Linked DNA regions of Homo sapiens: all the other regions are linked to region 1. Evidence: fine-mapped expression QTL. A gene starts in region 1. Each other region holds a variant in brackets. All regions are shown on one strand. Distances are between the middles of the regions. Region 1 holds the start of FIG4 (FIG4 phosphoinositide 5-phosphatase). Region 2 overlaps FIG4 (FIG4 phosphoinositide 5-phosphatase). Region 3 has its middle 78 kb from the start of GPR6. Region 4 overlaps FIG4 (FIG4 phosphoinositide 5-phosphatase). Region 5 overlaps FIG4 (FIG4 phosphoinositide 5-phosphatase). Region 6 has its middle 140 kb from the start of GPR6.

What was found. PIP is the estimated chance that this variant, and not a neighbour inherited with it, causes the effect.
Region 2: its variant is the best candidate, but not a certain one, in a credible set for the expression of FIG4 in whole blood (TOPMed, PIP 0.52).
Region 3: its variant is the best candidate, but not a certain one, in a credible set for the expression of FIG4 in blood mononuclear cells (TOPMed, PIP 0.84).
Region 4: its variant is the best candidate, but not a certain one, in a credible set for the expression of FIG4 in whole blood (TOPMed, PIP 0.84).
Region 5: its variant is the best candidate, but not a certain one, in a credible set for the expression of FIG4 in esophagus muscle (GTEx, PIP 0.58).
Region 6: its variant is the best candidate, but not a certain one, in a credible set for the expression of FIG4 in prefrontal cortex (CommonMind, PIP 0.63).

What each region holds. Positions count from the first base shown.
Region 1 is chr6:109,689,132-109,694,284 of GRCh38, forward strand. FIG4 (FIG4 phosphoinositide 5-phosphatase) reads left to right here and starts at 2,165. Exons shown (of 23, transcript NM_014845.6): 1 at 2,165-2,370. The coding sequence starts at 2,305. It overlaps AK9 (adenylate kinase 9), which reads right to left and starts at 2,071. Exons shown (of 41, transcript NM_001145128.3): 1 at 2,016-2,071. RefSeq lists an enhancer at 1,649-2,118.
Region 2 is chr6:109,780,178-109,785,177 of GRCh38, forward strand. It overlaps FIG4 (FIG4 phosphoinositide 5-phosphatase), which reads left to right. Exons shown (of 23, transcript NM_014845.6): 17 at 4,793-4,851. Among named protein-coding and RNA genes, the nearest start is that of FIG4, 91 kb to the left of the region's middle. The variant C/T (reference allele first, on the strand shown) is at 2,750.
Region 3 is chr6:109,897,353-109,902,505 of GRCh38, forward strand. No RefSeq gene overlaps it. Among named protein-coding and RNA genes, the nearest start is that of GPR6, 78 kb to the right of the region's middle. The variant C/G (reference allele first, on the strand shown) is at 2,511.
Region 4 is chr6:109,757,919-109,762,918 of GRCh38, forward strand. FIG4 (FIG4 phosphoinositide 5-phosphatase) reads left to right here. Exons shown (of 23, transcript NM_014845.6): 11 at 2,332-2,465; 12 at 4,173-4,289. Among named protein-coding and RNA genes, the nearest start is that of FIG4, 69 kb to the left of the region's middle. The variant A/G (reference allele first, on the strand shown) is at 2,310.
Region 5 is chr6:109,818,538-109,823,537 of GRCh38, forward strand. The region is part of intron 22 of FIG4 (FIG4 phosphoinositide 5-phosphatase); the gene reads left to right. Among named protein-coding and RNA genes, the nearest start is that of FIG4, 130 kb to the left of the region's middle. The variant G/C (reference allele first, on the strand shown) is at 1,951.
Region 6 is chr6:109,836,656-109,841,808 of GRCh38, forward strand. No RefSeq gene overlaps it. Among named protein-coding and RNA genes, the nearest start is that of GPR6, 140 kb to the right of the region's middle. The variant C/T (reference allele first, on the strand shown) is at 2,815.

The DNA of each region.
Region 1 (5,153 bases):
TCAATTAGAGACCTCAGATTAATTGCAGTAGTGGATTCTGCAGCTTGTCCCATTAATCTTTTTTTTTGTAAGTCCTTTTCTTTTAAAAATTGAGACTAGCCACTACCTTAAAGAATTAGGGTGGCATGGTGTGAACTTGATGTGGAGGAAGAATGGATACGAGTGCTGCAAAGGGTGGAATGTAGCAGCTGCTATTAGTGCCTCCCCCATATCCACTTGACATACACCTTTTCTATGCACGACCAGCCCAACTTCCAAAATGTTAGCATGTGCGACTTTTTGCCTAAGGGCTTTCTCTGGCTGCCAGAACCTACTCTCCCTGAACACAGGGTAGACTGGAAGTTCTAGGGCATCAATGTTCTGCCCTATCAGGCTTCATCCAATAACTGATGGAAGTTGGCGAATAAATACTCCAGCTTCCTTGCCCCTCAAGAGGGGATAACTGAGACATGCCTCCCAGTATTCCCTAGTGAATTCAGCCCACAGAGAAATTTCTCTGGTAATATTTCCTTTATTAGTTTTCTTCCCCTCCCTGCTGCTGTTTCCTGGGATTACGTCTCATATAAACAACCTGCCTTCAAAGTTTTGTCTTAGGATCTGATTCCGGGTGAAATAAACTAAGATAAAGTTAAAATGGAAGTGCTAAACTATAATAATTGAAAACTAGAATCCTTCAGGTATTTTAAGAGTTGCTATCCTAGATAAAAACACTGTGCAAACATTTAACTAATATTCAGAAGAGTTGGTTTCATTATGAAACAGAACACAGCTAACTATTTTTCCCAGTTAAAAGATCCAAGTCCAAAATGCCAGAACGGACACGGCCATCCTTCTAGTTCTTAATAAAAGGAGTACCAAACTACAGGGGGAAAGAAGCGCAAAATAACATAGACTTAAGTATTTCTTTACAATTTTTGTAATTTCTCAAATTTTAATTTACAATATGATCTTTGGTATTACATGAATGTTATCTGGGTATGCTATAATTCTATAATTTTTTTTTAAAGTTTCCTTACACTTAGCAGTTGAGAAGCCCTCTAGCAGAGGTTTCTGAGGTTTAGAGGTTTCCTGGGAAACCTAGAATTGCCGCCTAAGATAGGATAGCTGCCTCTCCCCTACATCTTATACTCTTGCAGTAGGTGTTCAGTAAATATTTGTGGAATAAATACTTCAGTCGTTGAAAGGAGACGTGGTTTTAAAAAGTGGATTTACAAAGAGACCGTTTTGCAAGAAAAGAAGCTGGTCTGGGGGTCCCCGCAGGAGGCGGGGTTCCGTGCAACAGATACCAAGATGCCTCCAGGGCGGACCACGACCCAGCGGGCCGCCGGAAGGCTCCTTACCTGGCCGCAGCCGGACCCTCCTCAGGGAAGCAACTGCCTCCAGGGACTCCGCGGGGCTGTCGGGCGGTTGCCGGGGAGACCTCTGGCCGCCACGCACCTGCTGCTTGGTGGGGCGGGGCCTCGAGAGGCGGGGCTGTAGTTCTTTGTCATTTCTTTTCCAATTCGAAATAGTCACTTTTGTACCTAATTTGGCATTTATAATTATAATACACTCATTTTCACAACTATGGAAGAGAGGGTACGCGCATGCCCATTTATGTCGCACACATGAAATGAAGAAACCTCATTTCAAGCGCGGCTCCGCCACACTGCGCTAGTCTCTGTCGACAACTTCAAGTGGCTAGCCTCACGCACAAACGTGTGGCAAAGCCACACTTTCCAGCTTTAGGTGATTTTAAAACAATTTCTTGGGCCACACAGCGTAGGTACAACATGGATTAGAGGTGAGGGGAAAACTGACACTCAGTGAAGGACCGTCAGAGGGCCGGCTTCCAGGAAAATGGGCCGCAGCAGGCAGGGAAAACACAAGGATCTATCCTGCAACTCGGAGAACCCTTTTCAAAAGAAGCTACCCAATCCCAAACCTTCCGCTTTTTTCCAAAGAGAGGGAGGAGATAAATAGACTCAATTAATCCGTCGACTTTTTCTCCGCCCATGTTTTCCTCCAATCCTTACCAAAGATGGTGCCCTTCGCTTCCTCTCTCGGCAGCACGCAGGTCCCGGGAGCCTCTACCCGACCTCTCTATGATACGTCCTCCAGCCCCGCTCCCGACGTGAGGGGCGGGGCTTGCCTGGAGGCGGGGCGCAGGGATCCGGAAACACCTGATCATCTATAGGTTTAGTGCCTAATGGGTGTTGTTCCTGGCTGGACTTGATGTCCAGGGCCTGAGGGGTTTTCTCGCCGAGTCTCCTGGGGCGGTCCGGAGGCTCGTGCCCTGTTGTGGGGCCCCCATTTGCCGCCGCCATGCCCACGGCCGCCGCCCCCATCATCAGCTCGGTCCAGAAGCTGGTTCTGTATGAGACTAGAGCTGTGAGTACCCCCTCGCGGCGGGGCGCAGGCGGGAGGATGGATGTCTGCCGGTGGGTGTGGGGCCGTAGGACAGAGGCTGTACTCTGCCTCCTCCTCCTTCCTCTCCAGTTCCCAAATCCCTGTCAAACACAGCCTTGGGGTAAGCTAGCTCCCTTGAGCTGTGCCTGGGCGCCTTTCCCCTATTTTGGTACCCTGGACATTGCAGCATTTGCAGGTCCACTTACAAGCCATGGCTGGAACACGCTGGAAACAGGTGCTTGTGGTACCTCAGGAACTGTTCATGAGGTTCTCTGTACGAGTTACTGGATTCTTTTCAGCTTTCAGAAAGTCTGTTAAAGTTCTAGAGTTCACAAGTTACAGTACAGGCAGGGGTATGAAAAAAATTTGAACTATGACTTGTAACTTATTTTTTCCTATTCCATGGTATACCATCACTGCGATTCATGTGAATTACACTTCTATTGGTGAACTTTTTGGTTCTCTTTTTTTCTTATTTGAAAGGAAAGGAAAACTTACTTTGTTTAAAGACAGATAATTTGTTTGGATAACATCTTGCTTTTCACTTGACTTTTTTCAACATAACATTTACTTTTAAAATTTTATTACTTTGAATGGCCATGTAAATAGTGAATAAGCAGATCAGTTTGTATTTCGATTACCAGTTCCTCAATTAAGGGAGAATGGTGTTTATATAACTTCATACTTGGTCCTTTCTGTGGGTGGAAAGCAAAGTTGGTACAGTATAGCTCTTCTAAATTGGGGTGCCACAGTGATATTAGGGACTGTGTTTAATATTACCCATTTCATGCTAACAAGATTGCATATGCCAGATATTTTCATAATGCTCTTCACTATGTTATAGAGTGCTTTATAAACTGTTTCTCTGAAACTTGGGTTGTCTCCATTAGAGGAGTATGAGAAGGCATTTAACAGTTTCTCAGTTATAACGTAGTCCTAATAGCACAATAACCTCTCCCTCAGGTTAACATGAGTAGAGAATTGTGGACCTTAAATTAATTTTGCTGACAACTTTGATTAGATCTAGAGCAGAAAATGACATTATCAAATATACTGTATTTGCAAGTATTTTCAGTTCTCTAATGAGACCCATAAAGAAGTATCATTTGTCATTGAAATGAAACCTATTTTCTGTAAAATATGCTGCTAAATTTCCCTCATTAGAAACATAAATAACTTTTTTTTTTTTCCCTTTGAGACAGAGTCTTGCTCTGTCACCCAGGCCGGAGTGCAGTGGTGCTATCTCGGCTCACTCACTGCAACCTCTGCTTCCCAGGTTCAAGAAGTTCTCGCACCCCAGCCTCCCAAGTAGCTAGGATTACAGGAATGTGACACCATGACCGGCTAATTCTTGTGTTTTTAATAAAAGACAGGGATTCTCCATGTTGGCCAGGCTGGTCTAAAACTCCTGGCTTCAGCCTCCCAAAGTGTTGGGATTACAGGCATGAGCCACCGCATCTGGCCGTAAATAAAACACAAATTTCAGCCCATTAAAAAGCTGATCACTCATGAGGACTGCGTGAGATATTAGTGTTCAGAAAGCACAATTCATATTATAGGGCTCTTCTGCTCAGAAATCTTCAGTGGTCCCAATTCTGAAGCAAGTAAACTCTGAATCCCTTAGTTGGCATTCAAAGCCATGTATTATTTGTCCTCAACTTGTCTATCTAGTTTTACATCTAATTTAATATCAATTAATGAAACATTTATTGAGGATCAACCATGTGCCTTCATATGCCTTATTCTGCAGTAAAACTGTATTGCTTTCAGTTCCCTATATCTGCCCTGTGTTTTTCTGCTGTTCTCTATTCTCTTAATGCCACACCCCCTCTTTTCCTGTCAAAACCTTGCTGATCCTCACAGCACATATCTGGTCATGCCTTGCAAACAGTAGTCTCTCAATAGATGTGGATTAAGGAGCTCTAACACAAAGAGATAGAGGTGTGTTCCAGAACTCAGCTGTGACCCCTCTCAACTGCCTAAGTAATGGAAACTAACTCTGGCCAGCTTAGAGACAAAAGGTAAATTTATCAGAGGGATGCTAGGGGAGCCATTGCATGGTATCCAGCTTCTGGAAAAGCAGGAAAGAGATAACAGGTTTGAGAACCCTCTCAGAGTACTGCCAAAAACAGTGTAGGTGCTGGGAGAAAAAATCTGATCGACTCAACTATGATTGGTTATCATCCCCTGAGTGGACAAATCATTCATGGCCAGGGGGGGTCTGGCAGGAATGATTTAGCTGTGGAATCAGGATCCTCTTTGTTTCAGCAAATGGTTGGGGCTGGGCAACCACCCTTGAAAATGTCTGCTGCATTGAATCACTGAGTCTCGGTTTTGTTAAATAATTTTTTTTTTTTGGTTAAAGATATAAGCAGAAAGGTTTTGTTTTGTTTTGTTTTGTTTTTACTAATAAGCTCAAAGTATAAATAAATAAGAAAAAGGCATAAAATTACAGGCAACTGGATAAATGCTATGAATTAAAAAAACAAAAACTGTAGTAGGTTGTAATAATGAGGATAATAGCTCAAAATATTCTACATATATTTTATTATTTAATCCTCATAAGACCTCTAAGAGATCATGCTGTTAATTCTACTACTATATATATTATTTAGTAAAGAAAAAAAATGAGGCAAAGATAATTTAAGGCAGTTACTTAACCCATTTATGCCAGAGGTTGCAAATTTTTTTGTGTGAAAAATCAGACCTTTGCGATGACCTTGAGCAGTAGGATATAAATAACTCCCACAAGCTTAGCGTTCCAA
Region 2 (5,000 bases), 91 kb after region 1:
TTAGCACCTAGCAAATACAATAGGTGTTAGTATTGTTACTGTCTTTGTTTTTGAGTCAGAGTCTGGCTCTGTCACCTAGGCTGGAGTGCAGTGGCGTGATCTCGGCTCACTGCAGCCTCTGCCTCCCAGGGCTCAAGCCATCTTTTCACCTTAGCCTTCCAAGTAGCTAGGACCACAGGTGGACACCACCACACCCAGCTAATTTTTGTATTTTTGGTAGAGACTGGGTTTTGTCATGTTGCCCAGGCTGGCCTCCAACTCCTGGGCTCAAGCAGTCTGCCCATTTTGGCTCCCAAATTGCCGGGATTACAGGTGTGAGCCACTGCACCTGCCCTGTTACTATTCTTTAAGGAGATAACATTCCCTAGTTTTTAACATTTATTAAAGATCATACGGGATGCCCATAAAGTCTGGAAACTTAGATAATGTGACTTATTAATGTAATATTAATAAAGACTTTATTATTTATTCATGAGTGTTTTGAAATTTGTGGCATGCTGTATCTTATACTGTGTTTATCAATGATACAGGAATGGTATAGATAATGGCGTGGCATATCTATGCCATGAAATAATACTTTTCTTGCACAATAAGGGAAGAGGGAATAAACTTAACTCTACCTAGAGTCATTGGAACAAGGTCCTCTTGAGATAAGTACTTCGATGACACAAAATCTCACATTGACTGATCTGCCTAAAACCACTAATTGAAGCTTTGTTCTGAATTTGATTAATATGGCATACAATCATCTAAGATTCCATCTAATGAACTGGTGTTTAGAATGTCACCAAGATGTTTTTAGGTATTAAGCATTAATTATTTCATTGACTCCTAGAGTTGGGAGATTTCTTGGCCTGCCCCCTGTCTGATATGTGAGTTCCCTTTCTGTTTCCCTAGGGAGAGAGAGAGGTAATCTGGCCTATGCTTGACAAGTTCTTGTTTGTCAACTGTTGAAGAGGCAGTTGTTTTGGAACAGTTCACTTACACAATTCTTCCTCATGTCATGCTGAGATCTGCTTCTCTGTAATCTTACCTATTAATCCTAGTTAAAGACCTTAAAAACAAGATTTCCTCATCCACTTGATAATCTTTTAAATATTTGAAGTTGAGTTCATACACTTTCAAAATCTCTTCTTCTACTGGTTAAATAGCCCCAGTTTCTTCAGCTGTTCCTCATATGCTGTGGTTTCAAGGCCCTCCAGCATTCGGAACAACACTCTCCTCTGTGTATATTCCAGTTGAGGTCAATGTTCTTCTTAAACTGTGGCCCCCAGATCTGGGTCCAATAATGGTCAGCATTTGGTCTGATTTGTGCTAGCTGTTCTGAGACCACTGGGACCATCACTCCCCTTGTCCTGGATGCTGTGTTTTCATTGATAAGCATAAGGTCACACCAGCCATCCTCAGCATTGCCATCACAGTGTGCATTCTCCAAGCTTCCTGTCTGTTAGAACTCCTAAGTCTTTTTAACATGTGCCGCTGCCACTCTGCCACATCTGTACCATTCTTGTCATGTTCGTATATGCTTTGCCTACTTCCAAAAAAAGTATTGAAATGTGTACCTTTAATGAATACTTCTAGCTTTATAGTTTCTTCAGATTTAATCAGTTGACCATCTTGATCCTAATTCAAGTACTTGATGAAAAATGTTGAGTACAGTAGGGTAAATGGCAGAACCCATTGATTTCTACCCACAGACAACTCCTTCCACATAACATTGTTTAGTGCCTTTGATTGTAATCATTTAAACAGCTGTAATTTCACTTAACTACACTATTGCCCTGCCCATATTTCTCTGTCTTGTTCACAAATATTGATTGCTCTGCTGACATTCATGAATGTTTCAGGGGGCTCCCAAGTTAGCTAGGAAAATTAGACAGTGTAAAAATTTTCCCTAACCTTCCTATGGAACCGAGAACTCTTAATAATACTAGGAACTGAAAAAGAAAAGAGAATCTGACTTACTAGCTCTTTTGTATGCAAAGAAGGGAGTGACACTAACTTGCAATCTCCTGTTTTCTGATCCCTGGTCCCAAAGCAGGTTTCTGACCCAGTGCATTGTTCTTCCTCTGGATAAATGTACCTGGTAGTAGAGGTGGTAAAGATTCCCCTATCTTGGGCTTAGTCGTCTTAGATGCTCTTATCCTCCATCCATTTTAGCTTATCTTCCCCAAGGCAGATATTTCTTTGCTTCTGAGACTCACCCAAAAGACTTGGAATCTTTTAAAAGTGTTGTTAAATTGCTACATATTGTAAGGGAAATACAATTTAGTAATATTTTTAAAAAGTTTATGGCCTGGTCTTAAATCATGAATACATGATTATCTTTTCATTTTTGCTCACCACAAGAATTCTGAGTTAAAACACATTTTTTGTAATGTCTACTTCTTCTTCCTAAGCAAGCTGATTGTAAGCAACATTCTTTAGGGAATTTCTCATATACTGATAACTTCTCTACTTTACTCGTCTGCCAGTGTTAGATCATCACAGAATTAGATTTACTCAGATGCATGCATACACACATGCATACACCCCTCTTAAACAATTAGTCCATGTCTTTTTCATTCCCCTGATCTGACAGTCTGATTTTCCTATTAGGAAAGGAAATGATATTAGCTTGGTGTGGCTTGTTTTTGTGAATAGATGTGAATTCAGAGAATGCATTGGCTATCTTTTTAGGTCACTTACAACACATCTCGATCTCATATTTGATTCTGTTATGTTGCTGGGATCAACATCACTTACATCA[C/T]TTGTTGATGTCTGGTTTTTGGAATCTGTCACCCTCTCACTGCTGAGCATCAAGACTACTGTTATCCTCAGCAAACTAATGCAGGAACAGAAAACTAAACACTGCGTGTTCTCACTTAAAAGTGGGAGCTGAATGATGAGAACACATGGACACATGATGGGAGAGAACAACACACACCAGGGCCTGCAGTGGTGAGGGTGGAAGGGAGAGCATCAGTATGAATAGCTAATGGATGCTGGGCTTAATACCTAGGTGATGGGATGATCTGTGCAGCAAACCACTATGGCACACATTTACCTATGTAACAAACCTGCACGTTCCGCACATGTACCCCTGAACTTAATGAAAGTTGAAAAAAGTAAATAAATAAATAAATTCTGCTAAATGTAAAAATTAAAGACTGCATTGGCCCATTTCCAGTATCAGCTCCATGTTTCACTGTTCCTTAAAGATTATAGATCTCAGCTACACCGGGACACTAGCCTCTTGTAGAGACGCTCTAGCGCCTCCTTCTGTCTTCTGGGTTGTACACAGTTCCCTCTTGTGTTTTTTCTTTCAGGTGCGAAACTTGTTATGGCTAGGGAGGATAGAAACAGTACTGGAATTAAGTAGCTCTACTTTCTCTGTCATTGCTTTCAGCTTGGCACTTTCAACACATAGAGCAGTGTCTGACACATAGCAGGTGCTTAATAAATGTGGAATAACTGAATGAATTCTTCACAAGCAGCAGCCTTATCCTTGCTCTGTTCTTCTCATATTCAAAGCCTTGTTATTGAAAAGGGGTTGGAGGATCTGCCCCTTTGGTTTTGCTCAGGAGTTTGTCATAGAGGCAGAATCTCAGGCCCCACCTACTGAATCATCTGCCTTTTAACAAGATCCCAAAGTGATTTACATGCACATTGAATTTTGAATAGCACTGCTGTAAAGCATAACTTCAGTCTAAAACAAAACTTTAGGAACCTTTCCTGTTAGAACAGTGATTTGCCCCACACAATTCATTAGGCTTCATATTCCTTTTTTCATCATTAGTGGTTGTGTATTCTGCTTGCCATCCCTAGGAGAGTTCCCTGTGTTGCCAGTTTCATTTGGATACTTTCCTGTTGCTTCATAATCAGGATTATTCAAGATTGTAATTTCAGCTTTATATTTTTAGAAAGCCTTTCATTTATATTAAAATCTCTTTTTAGCAATTTTTGGCTATAGGCTCTTTTTTTAATCTTTAGAAATCTGATTTTTAAAAAATTCTTCTCCTTCCTAGCTCTCATGAACTTTGACATATATCCTTTTCCTCTAAATATTCATTTCATTAGAATTTGATTGAGAATTAAATTAGGTGTTCAGAGAGAAGGCCACTTAGGATTCTTTCAGATTCTTTGCTTATAGCAGACGAGCCTTCTAGCAGAAATCCAGACAGGTGACATTCTTTACTCTTACTCTGACTAGCTTCTGTAATCAAGTAGCACATATTTACAGTTAAAGAATAACGGTCTATACTGCTTTCTAAGGGAACTTGTTCGTTAGGACTGTCTAATTCGTTCCTTAATGATTTTGCTTAACTGTTTTAACTATACACACAGGTGTGTACTATACAGCAGAGTAGATTCTAACTATCAGATAACTACACGCAAGGGAATCCTGGTTGTAGGACTTGGGTCAAGGTCCCACTACTCACCTGGTGGCAGAGTAAGTCACTGTAGGCACAGTCCCTGGGAGAAGTTAACAGCAGTTCATAGAGTCAGCTTATTACCTTCTAATCCTTTTTAGCTAAAAGTAAATAATATCAGAGCATCTTGACTCTCAGGTGTATTCATGGCATTTTTGTAGATCTGCAACATAGTTGAAGGAAGAAAGCAGTTGGGAAGGGAATTACCATGTTGAAGACCTACTGTGTCAAAAGCTTTGCAAACATGTTTTAAAAAGAAAAATATTAACTTTGAAGTAGGAACATGTTACTATAGACCATATAAATTATTTTATCCAGTAAATTTTAGAAAACCAACATTTACATTTGGTTCATCTTTTTTTTTAATTTTTATTTTATAGTTATACTTACTGGTGGACACCAGAGGTGATAAAGCATTTACCATTGCCCTATGATGAAGGTAGGTAACTGTTTGTGTTTTAGTTTTTACACTAACATATTTTGGCATTATACCTTAATGAACTTGAAGCATTAAATCCTTTGCACATAGTATTTTATTAGAAACAAATGAATGGCTGTTCAGTATTATGTTGCTGCTTTAATAGATAG
Region 3 (5,153 bases), 210 kb after region 1:
AGTTGGGCAGGTGGAGGTAGCTTGCTCTGCCCAGAGCTGTCCCCAGCTTGCTGGCTGACAGACCTGAACCACACCCTCCAGCTTAGCCTCACTCAGCCATTCATATTTTTCCCTTTATCTGTGACTTCTTTAATTTCTTAATTCTTTTATTTTCCAAATTGTTCCCAACATGAACCAGGAAGAGGGGGTGGCAGTCTAGGCAAAGAAAGGCAGATTTATTAGAGAAAGTATGAAAATACATTCAAAGGTTACAACAGGCAGCACAGCAGAAAAGGGGCTGTCTGCAAAGAGGTGGGGCTGGAGGGAAGTTTTCTAGGGTTGTGCTGGAGGGGATTCCATGCAGGGTTCTTGTGCCTGAGGAAGGAAGCCATTCATTGTGCCCACTGAGGTAGTCACACCCTTGGGTAGTTTGTGATCAGCCGTCTCTTAGAACAGTTGTTCATTGTTCTTTCCCATCTGGGGCCTTCCGGGAAAGGCAAGATGGGGGTGGGTTAGCTCAGATCACTGTCATAATTTTTTCACTGATATAATTTTTGCAAAGGTGGCTTCAAAAATAGTGCAAAATTGTTGGAGCAAAGGCTGTGTGGATTGAGGGTTGGAGAGAGGGCAGCAGGAAATGGTAGGAGGTGGTGGGAGATATTTCCAGCAGAGGTAGGAGCAGGCATGGTGGCACTCTCTGCCACCCTACCAAGGCACCAAGCTTCACTCACTGTGCACCTGGCTGGGTGGGAAGAATAGGTCAGAGGGATGCCACTGAAGACCAGGTGACAGGTGATGAGGTGACACAGAAATGTGGGCAAGGAAGTGAGGACCTTGGCAGAGGACATAGAGGGGAGGGGACACATTTGGATTATAGCTAAAAGGTGGAATCAATACATAAGATTTGGTGACGAGTTGAATGAGAGATTGGCACCGAGGGTGACTCCCGCATTTCTGTTACAGTAATTACATGGAAAATACCTTTTCTTTCTCCAAAATCCTGCAGTTCACCTAGATAACTCAACCCAGCACGGCTGGGGGACTGGGCATCCCAGGACATTACCTTGAGAAAAGGATTTTTAGTGCCCTGATGACCCTCTTTCCTAGCAAGGTGCATATTGCCCACACAACCCGACCTCTCTGGGGATTCCACACAACTTCAATTCTTTTTTTTTTTTTTTTTTTGACAGGGTTTTGCTCTATCACCCAGGCTGGAGTGCAGTGGCATAATCAGGGCTCACTGCAGACTCAATCTCTCAATCTCCTGGGCTCAATCAATCCTCCCATCTTAGCTTCACAAGTAGCCGGGGTTGCAGTTGTGGACCGTGCCTGGCTAATTTTTGTATTTTTTGTAGAGACAGTGTTTCACCATGTTGCCCAGGCTGGTCTTGAACACCTGGGCTTAAGCCATCTTCCCACCTCAGCCTCTCAACATGCTGGGATTACAGGCATTACTGTGCCCAGACCACATCTTCAATTCTGATTGAAGTATCTAATCCTCATTTCTCCAATAGAGAGATTAGAAAAGCAGAATACAATACTTAAAAAAAATCCTTTTTTATTTTGAAAAATATTTTAAACTTACAGAAAAGTTGCAAAAGGTATATAGTAATCTCCCATATACTCTTGACTTAGATTTACTAATTAACATTTTGACACAGCTTTCTCTATCTATATCTAATAATTATTATAATTAGTATTACTGAGCCATATGAATGAAAATTGCATATATTATGCCCCTTTATCCTTAAATGTTTCAGCATAGATCTCCTTAGAACAAGGACATTCTCTTCATAACCATAGTACAATGATCAATTTTAGGAACTTTAACATTAATGCAATATTATTATTTAAGATAAGGTACAGTTTATAGTCAGCTTTCACCAATTGCCCCAATAATGCCCTTTATGGCAACTTTTCCCCAAATTGAAGATCTAATTCAGGATTTTGCATTACACTTAGTTGTCCTGATTCTCTTACCTCATTTAATCTGGAAAATTTACTGAATTATTTTGTCTTTGTCTTTCATAACATTGACAATCTTAAAGAACACAAGCCAAGCATTTGGTAGAATTTCCACAATTTAAATGTGTCTGGTGTTTCTAGATGGTTATATGCAGGTTATGCGGTTTATAACATAAGTCATGTTTTGTCCTCAGCATATCACATCATCGTTAGTGATGTTAATGTTGATCAATTAGTTAGAGTAGTGTCAGCCAAGTTATTCTAATATGAAGTTACTATTTTTCTCTTTGAAATTAATAAGTCATGGCTGGGCATGGTGGCTCACATCTGTAATCCCAGCACTTTGGGAGACTGAGGTGGGTGGATCACCTGAGGTGAGGAGTTCAAGACCAGCCCGGCTAACATGGTGAAACCCCATCTCTACTAAAAATGCAAAAATTAGCCAGGCGTGGTGGCACATGCCTGTAATCCCAGCTACTTGGGACTGAGGCAGGAAGAGCGCTTGAACTCAGGAGGTGCAGATTGAAGTGAGCAGAGACTGCACTACTGCACTCCAGCTTGGGCAA[C/G]AGAGCAAGACTCTGTCTCAAAAAAAAAAAAGAAAGAAATTAATAAGTCATCTCTAAAGAAATACTTTGAGACTTCCACTGTCTTAGCATCCATTAATAATTCCTGTGTGAATCAATTACTACTACAATGTTGCAAAATGTTGATTATCTAACTCCATTATCTATTCTACTTTTATTAGTTGGCTTTCTATTTTAAAGAAGAGCCTTCCTCTCTTTCTCATTTATTTATTTAGTATAATATGAATCAATGAAATATTATTTTTCCAAGGGTTAGAATTCATCACTATTCTTATTTGTTTTGATAATCAAATTATTACAGATTTGGCCAGTGGGAAGCCCTTCAAGTTGCTTTTTATATTCTTGCAACATCCTCCCATCATTTTATGAGCACTTTCTTACTTTTAAGAACAACCAAATGTTCTTATACTTGCCCTGCCCCACCCTGGAATCAGCCATTTCTCCAAAAAGTCCTGGCTTCTTTTGGCAGCAGTAGTATTTAGAAACCAAGATCTCTGCTGATTGCTACTGGGATGTCACTGCCATTTCAATGGACAGAGCCAGTAGTAACCACTAATCCCAATTCAATACCACATGGTTCTTCTTTGCTTTTTCCTAGTTTATGCTTGTATCTTCTTTCTTTCATGGTGAGAATCCTGAATCCCTCTGCCACTCCTGGCCCACAGTCAAATTATTTACTTTTTTGCTTAGTGCTGCACTAATAAAGCACAACATAATTCCAGAATTGCTACATTCATACCTCTACCAACAACACCTTTACTAAATTGGAGTTGAAGATTTGTTTATAGATCTTTTTGTCTTTAGATTAACATCATTGTGTGTCCTTTCAATGATGTGCTGGGCATTGTCTAGTAGACCCTCTGTCTCTCTAATGACCCAGCAATTTTACACTATAGAAGTTGAAGAAAACAGTAATGGAAATTATTCTTATCCATAGCAACGTAAATGCCGGTGTCCAGTAGAGATATGATAGTTTTCTGCCCAGTAGAAATATGCCAACAAACATGCGTTGTCTTATAGAATATTAACCAGTTTTGCATCCATTGGCAAACTTACTTCAGCATTCCAGATTGCGCGCACACACACACACACACATTTTGTCCTTCACAAACTTAATCTTTGACCTTTAGGCCAGAACAGTAAGACCACGAAGGTGGTTGTGGCATCTGTTTTCCAGGAGACATTTTTCCTTCTTCAGTCTCACCACTGGAAGGTCACAACATTGACTATTCACTGAGTTATTATATAAAGCAACTAATCCTTTGAAAAATATTGTCTTGCTCATTGCTCTGTGAGACCAGCAGAAAATCAACTCTGGGTGATACGCTGATGGTGAAAGGACTAGAATGGGTAACTGTGCCCCCAGAGAAGCAAACTCTCATTTTGCCAATAGGTTCAATCTTCCCACCACTGTCTGTCCAGAGTTGCTAATGAGTGGCAAAATCGACTGCTCTCACCTCTTCTCCCAGCAAGGGCTCGCCTCTAGTGGAAGTGCAAATGAGCCCTAACACTGTCCTCAGCAGGAGGCCCAGGAGGAGAAGTAAGAGTCAGGAATTATCCACTCACTGTCACCGAATATTCCAGAATCAGCTATCAAACTGCAACAACCATCCTTTATCCGGCTTCTCCTGCTTGGTTAGAAGCCTCTACAATCTGCTCTTTGCACCAGGGTCTACACAGGTATCTCATGTGCCAATCCTCACACCTTCAACAAGTTCAGATTCAGAGAGGAGTTCGGTGACTCAGATTTATTTGACCACTGGCCTTTCAGGAAGCAGAGAGCGCTTTCCCCAGGGACTGTCACTCTTCCACCATGTTTCATTGTTTCCCCAGCAGATTGAGTAAAGGCTATTCTAGGAATGCTGAACGCGATGGAAATGCCTAAGATGATGGAAGTGTTGAAAACCTGATCTCAAACTGGAAAGGTTGGAGAGGCTCCTAGAAGAGGTCAAAATTTGAGCTTTGTGCACCTGTGTGTGCATGTTGGAATGTGTGTTGAAGAAAGGCATAGAAGGGTGCACACAGCTGGGACACACTTTACTGCAAGGGGATGAGGTAGGGCTAGAGGTGGGGATGCAACTGATCAAACATTAGCTTCTCTCCAGTAGGATTTATAATAACAAGCATGGATAACTTTTGTATTAAAAAAACACAATAAAGCAAAAGGGGATAAACAATCTAGAGGTTTCTTGTTGAACAATAGTATTTCATATCATGAAAAACACTTCATTTTACAGTGGATATGAATCATTCCCAGGCTTCTGACAGCCTAAACCCACAAGTGTGGGTGGGTTTGCCCTTTGCTAGGTAACAAGAAAGAAAGAATTTCAAAAGAAAATTTGTTATTTCATGGCACCCATCGTCCCAGTTATCTAAGGAGAGAGTGTTAGAGATGGAAAACCCGAACAACTTAGAAAGTGGAGTGGTGTGGTGCATAGTTACAGCTCCTGGTTGGACTGGCCTGTCAGCACAAACACAGAGGCACTGCAAGAACATGGAGTGCAGGGTGCAATAACCCCAGTGGCCATCAATGCAGTTAAGCTGCCGTGGCCTCTGCAGCAATTTCACAGCTGGAAGGCATACCAGTAGTCAGCAACGACTTCAGTTCCATTCATGCTGGAGTCA
Region 4 (5,000 bases), 69 kb after region 1:
CTTCAAGGAGAACTACAAACCACTGCCCAGTGAAATAAGAGAGGGCACAAACAGATGGAAAAACATTCCATGCTCATTGATAGGAAGAATCAATATTGTGAAAATGGCCATACTGCCCAAAGTAATTTATAGATTCAGTGCTATCCCCATCAAGCTACCATTGACTTTCTTCACAGAATTAGAAAAAACTTTAAATTTCATATGGAACCAAAAAAGAGCCCGTATAGCCAAGACAATCCTAAGCAAAAAGAACAAAGCTGTAGGCATCATGCTACCTGACTTCAGACTATACTACAAGGCTACAGTAACCAAAACAGCATGGTACTGGTACCAAAACACATACATAGACCAATGGAACAGAACAGAGGCCTCAGAAATGACACCACACATCTACAACCATCTGATCTTTGACAAACTTGACAAAAGCAAGTAATGGGGAGAGGATTCCTTATTTAATAAATGGTGCTGGGAAAACTGGCTAGCCATATGCAGAAAACAGAAACTGGATCCTTTCCTTGCACCTTATATAAAAATTAACTCCAGATGGATTAAACACTTAAATGTAAGACCTAAAACCAAAAAAGCCCTAGAAGAAAACCTAGGCAATACTATTCAGGACATAGGCATAGGCAAAGACTTCATGACTAAAACACCAAAAGCAATGGCAACAAAAGCCAAAATTGACAAATAGGATCTGATTAAACTAAAGAGCTTCTGCACAGTAAAAGAAACTATCATCAGAGTGAACAGGCAGCCTACAGAATGGGAGAAAATTGTTGCAATCTCTCCATCTCACAAAGGGCTACTATCCAGAATCTACAAGGAACTTAAACAAACTTACAAGAAAATACCCCATCAAAAAGTAGGCGAAGGATATGAACAGACACTTCTCAAAAGGACACATTTATATGTGGCCAACAAACATATGAAAAAAGGCTCATCATCACTGGTCATTAGAAAAATGCAAATCAAAACCACAATGAGATACCATCTCACGCCAGTTAGAATGGCGATTATTTAAGTCAGGAAACAACAGATGCTGGAGAGGACTTGGAGAAGTAGGAACGCTTTTACACTGTTGGGAGTGTAAATTAGTTCAACCATTGTGGAAGACAGTGTGGTGATTCCTCAAGGATCTAGAACCAGAAATGCCATTTGACCCAGCAATCCCATTACTGGGTATATACTCAAAGGATTATAAATCATGCTACTATAAAGACACATGCACACATGTTTATTGCAGCACTATTCACAATAGCAAAGACTTGAAACCAACCCAACGGCCCATCAATGATGGACTGGATAAAGAAAATGTGGTACATATATACCATGGAATACTATGCAGCCATAAAAAAGGATGAGTTCATGTCGTTGAGAGTGATGGAACTACCTAATGTAGATATTGGGCTGATGGATGCAGGAAACCACCATGGCATGTGTATACCTATGTAACAAACTTGCACGTTCTGCACATGTATCCCATAACTTAAAGTATTAAGAAAAAAAAAGAAAAAAAACTCACCATGCTCTGTCTCATTTAAGTCTCACATTGATGTTGTAAGGAAGATACTGTTTTTACCCTATTTTATAGATGAAAAAATGGAGGCCTAGGGAAATTGAGAACATTGCCCAAGGTCACATGGCTAGTGAGTGGCAGAGTCACCATTCCAACCACAGAACTGTACAGTAAAGTACTAGCTTCTCTTGAATGAGAGGCAGTGCAGTGTCTAACTAAAGAGATGCCCCAGGCAAGGAGGCAGAAGGCAAGGTTTAGTTCCATGAATGCCTCTCCACCTCAATTCATTCAACCACAGTGTAAAAAGAAAAAGAAATGCCTGTTTTGGTTATCTCACAGAGTATTTGCAAGTCTAATTTATGAAGTCCTGTGAAGGCTGAGAAGCTGCTTTCTGCTGTGCTAGTTTGGGAATTGTTCATCCAGACTAGTTGATTTCTTTCTGGCCTCCAGCTGGTTAAAGTTGGGGGCTCCCTTCTTCTGGTCCTTGGGAGGGATCTCCTCTGTCAGAGTCAGGTGTGGAGTGTGTGGGCCATGGCCCACGTTGGGTAAGCTGGGTTTCTCAGGGTGCAGGGAGAGTACCAGGAAGAAACCTGATCTCCTAGAATCTTCAAAGTTCATTAGCTGTTCACTTTAATACAATGGAGCATTTATTTCTTTGTGTTTTTATTATTTCTGATTATTGTAGCTAGGTTTCATTTTAGTATATTTAAGACTTGGATTTTTTTGTCTTAGCTTAGCTTAAAAGTAAACATGTTGAGCCTGTTCCTCTGATTTAAGGAAATTAGAACACTGA[A/G]AATGTTTAATTTTTGATAAAGGAACGAGAGAAAAGAAAGCATGAAAGAATTCTGAGTGAAGAACTTGTTGCTGCTGTGACCTATCTCAACCAATTTTTGCCTCCTGAGCACACTATTGTTTATATTCCCTGGGACATGGCCAAGTATACCAAAAGGTGAATGATACTCATCTGTCTGGCTATGATCGTTTCCTTTTCTTGTGATGAGAAATAACAGGAAGCTGACCTCTGTGGTAAAGTAAATGTTACCCTGTTAATTTCCTTCATGAACCTGTTGAGGGGCTGTTTTGAGTGCATCAAGAAACTAACCAAACATTTTTTTTTCTTTTTGCCTATCATATATACCATTTGCAAATTGTTTGAAATATTTAGTCATTTCAGAACATCTCTACAACTGTTCCTTAAAGGCATTAGTTTTGCTTTTTTCTATATCATTCTGTCTCACTATTTAAACACTTTCTCAGATGTCACTCGTGGATGAACCTGTGATAATTCCTGACTGTATATAGTAGATCCAAACTCCTTAGTGTAATGTCAAAGGCTCGTCATCTGGTTGGCTTCAGAATGTGACCACTTTTTATTTATCCCAAGGGCTGTTCTCTTCCAGAAAACTGAATTTTCATGCTCTGCCACAAATGTGGCAGCCAAAGTCCCATCCTAAGCCTCCATTCCTCTTCTTCACCCTCCCTGGGATGCTTTCCCACCTCTCTTTTGTCTTTCAAGATCTGATTCAAAACTCATCTCTTCTAAGGAACTTACTTTTGTTAAATCTTGCATTGTCTTTTTGTTCACTTACTACAGAATCATACAAGCTGTAGGTTTACTTAAGGTCTTATTTTTTAAGATGTTACTATATCGTTTTGTACTTATTGTACTTTTTTCTGAGTCATTTTATACAGTTAGATACACACACACTTTCTCAGAGTATAAGTTTGTTTACAAGTTATTGCCATTCATATTATTTTTTTAATTATCATTTTTCAAACATAGTCTTGCTCTGTTGCCCAGGCTTGAGTGCAGTGGTACGATCTCAGCTTATTGCAGACTCTGCCGCCCGGGTTCAAGCGATTCTCCTGTCTCAGCCTCCTGAGTAGCTGGGACTGCAGTCATGCACCACCGTGCCTGGCTAATTTTTTGTTGTTGTTGTTGTTGTTTTTGTTTCTGTTTTTGTTTTTTGAGATGGAGCCTCACTCTGTTGCCCAGGCTGGAGTGCAGTGGCGCAATCTCGGCTCACTGCAAACTCCACCTCCCGGGTTCACGCCATTCTCCTGCCTTAGCCATCCAAGTAGCTGGGACTACAGGCACCCTCCACCACGCCCGGCTAATTTTTTATATTTTTAGTGGAGATGGGGTTTCACCATGTTGGCCAGTCTGGTCTCGAACTCCTGACCTTAAGTGATCCGCCCGCATTGGCCTCCCAAAGTGCTGGGATTACAGGCGTGAGCCACTGCACCCAGCTGCCATTCATATTATTTTGCAGTTTTTTCTGCTCTGCCACCTGCACTGTGCGTGGTGCTCTTTTCACAGCCGTTTTATGAATGTATATTGACTTGACAACTCTTGAGGAGTGAAAGGCTTTGGAGAAAGCTCAGGCAGGGATGTTATATGCCAAGATTAAGGATCACCAATATTTGATATTAAGTTGCAGGTCTTTTGTGTCTCTTTCACATCAAATGTTGCTGGTTACTGAGTACACATTATATTCTAGACATTGTTACATGTTTCTATCAAGTACCAGCCAAGAGATTTTAAAAATTACATCTTTAAGTATCATTGCTATAGACTTTACTGGCTTTAGATATAAGGATAAATATATATTAAAACTTGGCTTCTCACTTTTCTCATTCTTCCTTCTCTCCTCAGCAAGCTGTGTAATGTTCTTGATCGACTAAATGTGATTGCAGAAAGTGTGGTGAAGAAAACAGGTTTCTTTGTAAACCGCCCTGATTCTTACTGTAGCATTTTGCGGCCAGATGAAAAGTATGTATGGTATTTTAAAACTTATAATAAATGATGATTTTTGCTCTTATGGGTATTCTAAATACAGCAGTTTGTACTACTTGGAAATTGGATGAATTTAGTCCTGGGGGGAGGCACACTGCTCACATGACTGAGTGCTGAATGTTCACTGGGGCATGGGAATTCCTTTGGTGGTTACCTACATACCTTGAGATGTAAGCCATGGGATCTGCATCTCTTGCTTCATAGAACAAATGTTACATAAAATATTTCTGTAAGTAAAATTTTCAACAGTGAACTATTTTTCAGTATTGAATAGAAACAGACATTTTTTTCTTATAGATTACATACTAACATTTTTATAAAAATAGTATTGTATTATAGTTATTCGCTCACAAATCTTTTATTACTATTTTGGGAGCTTCTTCAGATCAAGGATTTATGCTTTATCTTTTAAGAAACCAATACTATGTATTTATGGCATTTTATTTTCAGTTAATGTAGTTAACTACAATCATAAGACAATAAAAAAGAACTAACTACTAGTGTATATGTCTTTGGAAGTAATCCCTTTGTTATAGTTTGCATTGTTTGCACTTGTTTATTTGAATTTTAGGGTACCCATGACAGGGGTCCCCCAAGACTAGTCCCAGATTTCAGTGATTCACTAGGAGAACTGAAAGGACTCCGCCTATTGTATTCTGGCTATAATTTATTATGGTGAAAGGATAT
Region 5 (5,000 bases), 130 kb after region 1:
CTATTATATTATTAGGTAGGCTGTTAATCTCTTACTGTGCCTAATTTATAAATTACCATGTCATAGGTATGTATGTACAGGAAAACAGGATATATGAGGGTTGGTGCTATCTGCAGTTTCCAGCGTCCATTGGGGGTCTTGGAACATATCCCTGAAGGATAAGGGGGAATACTGTATTCAAAAAGCCATTACCACAGTGCCCAACTCAAGAGCACATCACCTGTGCCACTAATCTGCAAAACACATACCCTGCATCCTGCTGCTTTCCATATGACCCAGTTTCAAATCAAAGCACTTGAGTACAAGTCGCAGGTAGAACCTAAATTGCATTCTGAACCTGAATTGCAAGGGATCCTGGGATATTAGTTTTTGCTTTTCCGCTGCTGCACACTAGACGGGGAATGCAGTGGATGCTGAGGAGCCTCATCTATGTCATGTGTCACTGTCTGCCCTTTAGCTTCCCAGTTATCCGTGTATACTCTTCTTGCTGTAAGTAGGACCCACTCCATTCCCTGTAAATTTCTGCATCCCATTCAAAGTCCAGGATCTCTGGGTATGTGTAGCTCTCTTCATTAGGTCCAGATAGAGCTTTTTATCACCTAGTGACCTATAAATAAAGACTGCCTCTGCTCCTGATATACAGTGGTGGCAAAGGAAAATTAAAACTCTCATTCAGAAAGGAGGAGTATGGGAAACATACAACTGCTATTTGTCCTTAGTAGTGACCTCATCCCACTAGGCAACAATGGTAAAGGCACCTTGCTCAGATAGTAGAGTGAGGTCCTTGGGTAGCCATCCAGGGCTCCTTTGTCCATGAAGCCCAAGGCCCAAATCAGTTTCAGTTGGGTCACATTTTGCCAGAAAGTAACTTTTGGTTATTATAGCTTTTGGGATTTCAGGATTGCAGATAGGAATTATGTATCTGTAATTTTGTTTTTGTTTTTGTTTTGAGACAGAGTCTTACTCTGTTGTCCAGACTGGAATGCAATGGCCTGATCTCGGCTCACTGCAACCTCCGCCTCCCAGGTTCACACAATTCTCCTGCCTCAGCCTCTGAAGTAGCTGGGATTACAGGTGCCCGCCACCACGAGCTGCTATTTTGTGTATTTTTAGTAGAAACGGGGTTTCACCATATTGGCCAGGCTGATCTCGAACTCCTGACCTCAGGTGATCCGCCTGCCTCAGCCTCTTAAAGTGCTGGGATTATAGGCATGACTCACCATGGCCATGTAATTGTTAACAATAGTTCACCTTTACTGAGCACTCAGGCACTATGCTATACATATAAACTTAAACTCATTTACTCCACTCAACAGCTGTGTGAGGTAGGAATTCTTAGTATCCCCTACTTCATTGATTTCTACTAAATCTTTCTTAAAAAGCCATTGAGTCCCTACCATATGCCAAGGAAAAAGAGCAAAAAGTCTGTACAGCCTCAGCAAAAGTTGCTCCCACTCACATGAGGGAGACAGATGGGGGCACAGACATAGGTGTGCACAAGGCTATGGGAACAGAGGAGAGGGGCATGCCCTACCTATGCATCAGGCAGGGCTCCCAGGCAGGTACTGGTCCAACTCTGTCCTCCAGGCAGAGAAAAAAACCAGCCCTGAGTGGACTGGGGAGGTCATTCCAGCAGCTTGTTAATAGTAAACCTGCTTCTTCAATCTAGCGACTGTCAAATGCTTCTGAGACCACAGCTCACATGAGAATAGATGGTATACCATCTCCTATTAGCTGCAATAAAAGTATATCTGATAAGTAGTCATTTAAAACATTTCTCTAACTCTTCTTGTACCTCTACTGCTATGTAGGCAATACCTGATTAGCCACATGCAGATGAACCATGAGATTAAGAGTGTTACCACCTCACCCGCACCCCCCAAGTCTCCCATCACTCAGATAGCCAGTCCATCTGAACATCTGCAGTATGCGTTGTCTCTGAAGGGAACA[G/C]GTCCGGCAAGAGTAGACGTGGGAGTTGAGCTGGGAAAGAGCTTCTCTGAGAGCAGCCCTGGGTAAGGAGGGGTGGTGTAGCAGTGCCGATCTCCAGAACAAGGAAAATGGAGCCCTGCAGCTGACAGTATGGCAAATGTAGGGCTCAGTTTGAGGGATGGGTGAAAAATACACTTTTAAAAATAGAGCCTGGTCGGTTCTGGAAGAAGGCAGCAGCAGCAGCAGCATCATTTTAAAATCTCTCTGAATCCTCACACAAAAAAACAGAACAACTGGTTAGCAAAACCAGGCACCTACAGACAACACTTACCTCAAAACTGTGCGATACAGTATCCTCACTCACCCCCAAATCTAAAGAGGATGTGGAAGTAAACCCCCCACAGCCATAAAGACCTGCATGATAGCAGTGTGTGTGCAAGAGGAAGAAGCAGGAGGAAACAGTGGGGCATCTGAGAGGCCTGAGAATAGGAGAACCCCAAAATAGCTCACAGGTAGTCGCCAGAAATCATTGAAGCTGAAACAGAAGGGGTTCACCCAATTCAATACCAGGGGAGTGCAAGGGATTTTTGGTGAGTTCTGAAAGGGGCTGAGGCCGTCTGGGCCACATACAGTCTTGAACCCAAACGGCCAAAGCTCCCTACCTGGACATGGCAGGAGAAATTGCTGATAGTGGCATTAAAATTGAGCAGGACAATGGAGATGAAGGAAGGAGAAAGCCCAGACAACATTGAGGAAGGGGAGCAGAGAGGAAACCTCAGAGAGCAAGCTGTGGCAGTTTTCAACACTTCACTGAAACAACCAAAGAGAGTTCTGTGAAGTTAAGTAAATCTTTCCTGAGCAACATCTTCTTACAGCTCTGCAAAACTAATTTTGCACAATAAGCAACAGAAAAGTATCAAGGGCCAATCTCATCATAGAATTATAAAGAACAGAGCAAAATAACATTCCTACAGACAATGAAATCATGCCAGAAAGACAAGTTAATAAAAGAGGTTAAAACAGAAACATACTATTTCAAAATGAACTAAAATACAAAGCTTTAAAAAGAAATGAAGAAAGACATTAAAAAGGACTGAAGATGAAGTGTCAAGTGATAATTTGACAAGTCCCAATGGGTTACTGGATCTAGGCATTGGCCTCAGTGACTGTTAACATAAAAAAGATAAGCAACCAGAGACTGTGACCCTCCTGATGAAGCAATACACCACCAGCCATAGTGTTACCAAAGCAATCGAAACAGCATCTCACCACCCTCTGGGTCCAACTGCTGACCCACAGCGCATATAAAGGGCAGAGGAACACTTTGAACTGCATCTTGACTATGCAAGCAGCTAAATCCAAACTGAGGGAAACTCTACAACCCAGATTCTTCAACAGATAAATTGTAAGAAAAAGAAAAGTGAGAGGCCGGGTTCAGTGGCTCGAGCCTGTAATCCCAGCACTTTGGGAGGGCAAGGCAGGAGGATCGCCTGAGCCCAGGAGTTCGAGGTTGCAGTGAGCCATGATCGCTCCATTGTATTCCAGCCTAGGAGATACAGGAAGACCCTGTGTCTTAAAAAAAGAAAGAAAAAGAAAGATGAGAGCATCTGTAGATTAAAAAGCATATCACACTTTTGAAATGAGCAGGACTATAGAATCTAGGGGTGCACATTTGAACGACAGTGTCTTTTTTTAAAAGTGCAAACAAGTGATTACTATAGAAGTCAGGATAAGGTTACTTATGAGTCAGGGTAGGGGATTGTGATGGGGTTGGGGCACCTGGAAGGGGCTTTTGGGTTGGTTGTCAGAATTTCTGTTTGTTTACCTGGGTGATGTTCACTTTATAATAATTATGTGTTTGTTTTGTGTGATTTTCTGTATCGATTTTATTTTGCAATAAAAAAGTGAAAAGCACTGGTAAATCTGAAACACAGTAGTTTTTCTATGATAAATATTGGGTAAATATTGTTAGTTTTTATATTTAATTAATGTGTACATAATGGTATTTCAACTGAAAACTTTACCAACCTTGTAGCAGCCTCTAAATCTCTATTGTGTATTTCATTGATCTTTGCTATATAACAGTGTAAAAAAACAGTCACATTTTAAGGACAAGATGTTCCAGCTCTACCTAGGAAATAATAGGGGTTACAGTATGTTATCTAGATTTATTGGCTCCAAACCCCATATGCTCATTAACTATATTTTTGTTCTAATATCTGCACAATAGAATGACCATTATAAAAGTTCACATGGCTTCACTTAAAGCACATTACTTGGTGGGGATGGTTGAAGTGTATATATATGTGTGTGTGTGTATGTATATATATATATATATATATATATATATATATATATATATCGCTTTCTTCAGCATTGTTTTTAAAGAATACATATACATATATAAGTAGGTATAAAGCATAACTATATATATATAGTGTGTGTGTATATATATATACACCATATCTCATCTACACACATGCATACACATTATTTTTTAATCTAGTGAATCTGATGACAAATGAGTCTACAAAAGATAGAGTTTAGCAGCCTTAGACATAACAAATGCATACATTTCTTTAATATCTATTAATGTCATTGTATACTTTGATCTATAAATAATTTTTTTGTGCTGTTGATGTTGCCTAGGCTTGGCGATAAAATCCTCAACCTTTGCCAGACTGCAGTGTCTTTCTTGTTGGTCTGTCATTGACATGGCTCCCTGACAGGTTGAAGACAGATCAGTGTTTGAGAAACACGTACAGTAAGAATTTTGCTGTCCTCATGCTCTCTCTATAACCAAAATGTCACTGACTCTCTTCCTATCAAAGTCTTTAAAGACCCAGCCTACTCTGAGGAGCTGAAATTCCTTATTGCTGATCCTTTGAAGGGCCTCATGAGCAGACAACCTGCTCTCCTGGTCACCCCTAGTTCTGTGTTATTTTAATGCAATTGAATGTAGTCTCCAGTCATCTCAGGATGTGTCATTGTTGTGGATAAAAGCAAAGTACAGTAAGCTATCTTGGCTGTTTGCTGGGAGCATTAAAAAGACCCACATTTAATTGTAGCAC
Region 6 (5,153 bases), 150 kb after region 1:
TGAATTTTTTATTCACAATCCTGGCCCTAGGAAAGGGGAGCAGTTTCAAAAGTTTCTAGTTGACCTTCCCCACTCTGAGAGGTCTTGAACTGCAGTCCAAGGATCTAATGTGGAAGTTACTCTTAACTGCGGTGTATCAGTTCCAACTATACACTCAAGTCTGGAGAAAATGACCACACAGGCCCAAGGGGCCCATGGTGTGCTGGACTGTGGCCTGGACTCCATTTATTACCTGGCCCCTGTGAGCCCTCCCTCTAGCAGTGGGGCCATGATGACATTTTGCATCCCTAACTGTCAGTGTCAACTCAGACCCCTGTCTAATAATTGGTTAAAGTGCAGGGATTGAGAGAGAACGTGGGTTCAAGTCCCTGGTCCAGCACTTGGTGAACAAGGGACTTCAAGCAATATTCAACCTCTGTCGGCCGCATTTTCTATTTCTATTAAATGGCCTGGGATATGACTTTTAGAATAGTATGAATCCCATTTGGATTTTATGAAGATTAAATGAGACATTTTATGTAAGGAGTTTAGAATTATTCCTGGCCCATAATAGCAAGCACTTTTATATGCTAGTATTCCTAAAAACTAAAGGCCATTTGAGATTCTCCAGCTGGGGTGTACTTTGCTGAAAGTCTGAGAAGTCTACAAAAATTAGACAGTCTTCCATATCTCAGCACCTAGCTCTACTCTGGTTTAGAGCCAAAGACAAGAAGAAGCATAGTGGGGAGGTGGTGAGAGGCCGAGGAAGGCTACTGATGTCAAGAAGAGTTTTGACCACAGAACTAACAAGCAAGATGGCTGAGGGGCACTTTTCAGAGAGGCCCCCGTGACCCTCATACATGGCCCTAGGTGTCAGTAAACTCCTGGTGATGAGCAGTACCCATGTATTGCAATGCACCTCACTCCTGGGACATATCTCCGAGGAAGCAGGGCCTAGAATGGTTCTTTCAACTGTGCAAGGAGGCCCAACCCCTTTGCTGGACTGGAAAATATTTGCTAAAAGAAGGGCACAAAGCTGCTAAGGCTGGGATTTCCAACAATCTTATGGGCTGAGAAGGCCAGCCTAAATGGGAGACACCCTGACTTTGGGAGGAGGACATGGTTGGGTGGCTTGATGCATCTGCATATAGCAAAGTGGAGAATTTTTATTTACCATAATTGCAGGGTGGCAGATTCTCACTAGGAAAATGATTAGAGAAAGAAAGATGCATGCAATGGGAAGATCACATGTTGGGGGCATGGAGTGCATGACCAGTGAGGCCTGGTGGGGAAGAAGCCAGGGAGAGCATCCTGGCGAGAGGAGTCCCGTGGGGGGTGGTGGTAAAGAGAGAGGGAGATGTGAGATGAAAGTGAGAGCTGTCTGAAAAGGATGGTCAAGAACCAAGTCCGAAATGGGATTTGACTAGCTTTTGAGTATGGATTTGTGTTTGTTTACATAAATATATTTATTTGACTATATTAATTTAACTAACTGAGCTGACATGTATTAAATGGGATAGCCACAGATCCAGGGCCATGTACAGCCCCGATTCTGCTCCATGTAGGGGCCTTGAGGAGTATATCTGGCAGACAGGGCTGCTCTGGCCCCCATAGCAATGAGCAGCCGTCAGACAGTGCCAGCCACCATTTCCCTGCTCCTTCTAGTGCAGAGCTGGGCCTGAAATTGAGTTTTGAGGTTTACAGCTCAGCATGGCTGAGCTGTGTTTGGAGGGAGGGGTCTGGATGGCTGGGTTTTTTAATGTGACACCATACAGAGACTGGTTCTAGAGGTGGCCCAGTTGTATTTGGGTTACACACGCACATCTCCAAAGGCTGGCACAGTGACAGGGCTGGTTATGCCATTGAAGCCAAGGAGTAACATAGAACTAAGGGCAAATGCCTGAGATTAGAAGCCTGACAGTCTGTTGCTGTTCTCACTGGCCAGTGGGTCAGCACTATCCCTGCCTCTCCATAACCTGGCTGCACAGTGGATGCTACCAGCCCTGCCCATGGTGCCCTGAATCTTTGACCAGAGCCTCCAGACCCTGTGCCCCTGATGCAGGAGCTTCCAGACCACAGGAGATCATCATCCTGGTGGCTGGACTCGGCAGCCCAGAGCAAAATGACCCTGGACTTTCCCTCAGCTGAAACCATGCAGATAGGATAAGACAAGATGTTTTCCAGACTCTAGGACACAGCCCACCACTTGGCCCTCTCCACCAAAAGATGCTCTGCTGAGAAGTTAGGAAGAGGTTAATGGAAGGCATGCTCCCCTCACCTCAGCAAACATGTCAGGATTGCAACTCCTGGGGATGCCATGTGCACGTGAATTTAAGAAAAAAAAAAGGACTTCTTTGTTTGGGAGCAGGGGCAGAGCAACCCAGTAACTGAATAATTGGAGTGACCCAATAGGATCAGTGATGATTCTTACAATGTGGAGCTAAGCTGAGTCACATACACCAGTGAGGAGAGCAGGAGTGCCACCCCAGGGTATGCTTCACCTAACTCTTAGAGATAATTTCATTTCTGTTTTTGAAAATCCTCTTGGTACAGTTGCTGATAAGCTGATCTAGTGCCCACAAAAACCCCATGTGAAAATCTAAGGTCATTTAAAAATTACATATGTTAGGCTCTCCTTTTAGCAACTGCAATCTGATTGAGCTGGACAACAAACATTTATTGAGTACTTACTGGGTCCCAGGCACACTGAGCTGCAAACCTCAAAACTCAGTTTCAGGCCCAGCTCTGCACTAGAAGGAGCAGGGAAATGGTGGCTGGCACTGTCTGATGGCTGCTCATTGTTATGGGGGCCAGAGCAGCCCTGTCTGCCAGATA[C/T]ACTCCTCAAGGCCCCTACATGGAGTAGAATCGGGGTTGTACATGGCTCTGGATCTGTGACTATCCCATTTAATACATGTCAACTCAGTTTTTTGTTGTTGTTTTTGTTTTTTGAGATAGGATCTTGCTCTGTCCCCCAGGCTGGAGTGCAGTGGCACGATCTCAGCTTACTACTACCTTTGCCTCCCGGGTTCTAGAGATTCTCCCTCTTCAGCCACCTCAGTAGCTGGGATTACAGGTGCGTGCCACCACGCCCAGCTAATTTTTTTGTATTTTTAGTAGAGATGGGGTTTCACTATGTTGGCCAGGCTGGTCTCAAACTCCTGACCTCAAGTGATCTGCCTGCCTTGGCCTCCCAAAGTGCTGAGATTACAGGCGTGAGCCACTGCGTCTGGCCTGTGAAGGGCCTTCTTTAAATACAGAGGTGAGAGTCTCCAGCCAAGTCTGGGTAGCCAGGGAGGGTTCTATATGAATCAGGAACAGCAAAGGGGTCCGAGGCATGGGGTCTAGTCACCTCCAGGACTTGTTATCTGGAATCAGTGCCTTGCAGGTGGACCACCTGGTAAAGGCAAGTCTAGATGGGGAAGAAGCAAATTCTGCCCCCTTTTGTCCACTGCTGGGGTGAAAAGACATGGGGGAAGGGAGGCTGATGAGAGGTGATTGGTAATGAGTTTTTAATGAAACCCATGAAGCAGTGAATTTACATATAATTATGCATACTATTTTGGAATTACTAAATATTAATATTAATTCAATAATTTAATAAATATTTATTTTCATTTTAAAAATAATTTATAAATATTAAATAACTTAAATATTATAAATTATTTCAAATAGGTAGGTTACTTTTTAACTAACTTTGAAAAAAGTACCTACCTATTTGAAAAACACAGGTGTGCATTCTTGAACATGAAAAAGATCTCTGGTTGGAACTCCTGCAGCCAGCAATTTTAGCTCTTCTTTTTTTTGACAAATATGTTTATGAAATAGTATGTTGTAAACATTTATGAAATCATTACATTGTATCCCATAAATATATATAATTATTATTTGTCTATTGAAAATAAAAATATAAACAAACCTATAATGGGGCAAATATTTCCTGTGGAGGAATATACAGTAGGATGGACTTCCTCTTTTAAAAAGTAGCATTGGGCTAGGCACGGTGGCTCACACCTGTAATCTCAGTACTTTGGGAGGCCAAGGTGGGTAGCTCACGAGGTTAGGAGTTCGAGACCAGCCTGACCAACATGGTGAAACCCCATCTCTACTAAAAATACAAAAATTAGCTAGACATGGTGGCATGCGCCTGTAATCCCAGCTACTTGGGAGGCTGAGGCAGGAGAATCACTTGAACCAGGGAGTCAGAGGTTGCAGTGAGCTGAGATTGCACCACTGCATTCCAGCCTGGTGACAGAGCAAGACTCCATCTCCAAAAAAAAAAAAAAGTAGTATTTTCAGGAGCACACTTAGAATGGGGAGCTCTGTCCAGCTGTTATGTGGTGGGCATTGCTGGGCTGACCCTCTATCGCAGAGACCACAAAGCAAAGAAAACAAAAGGAATCCGGAGCCCCGGTGCCCATATTTGGCTGGTGGAAGCATCACTAACAAGCAACTTGCCTGAGAATTAGACAAACCTAGAGCCCTCTTCAGCCTTAGGAGTGAGCTACAAATCTCGACACTTCCAGAGATGAACACTGCCAGCGCTTTAAGAGCCCAAAGCTTTCTGTCTGGATTTCTTCTCTCCCTCTTGCTTTGACTTGCTGGTCCCACAACCCCATCCTCTGAGCTCTGACCCTTCCCATCCTCCACCACACAACCACCAGGCTTCTATGTCACTCTTCCCATCTCAAGAGGTCCCCATTCTCCTCCAACTGATGCCCCCCAAGTCTGTGAGAAGACGGCTGCTTAACTATTATGAATGCATCCATTTACACCTTGGCTTAAGTATGCTTTCAGCTAATTCATTCAATAGACTTCGTGTGTGTGTGTGTGTGTGTGTGTGTGTGTGTGTGTGTGTGTGTGTATTTTCTATGTGCTAGGCCAGATGCAAGCCTACAGAGGCTGGAGAGTTAGGCAGGGACTGGGTCTCCCCACATGTGTCTGCCAGCTACCAAAAAGAAAAGGCAGCCCTGATACATGGCAAAGTACGACAATTACAGGATTAGACCTGAATATCTACTATTACTAGGCTCTTTGCTAGAGATTGAAAACACACTGGCAAGCAAGACAGCTCATTTTTTCAAAGAGTTTACAGCCTGGTGAAAAAGACAGGCAAGAAAAGGGCACTTAAGCTTCATAATGGTAAGCATTATTGTATTAGTCAGTATTCTCCAGAG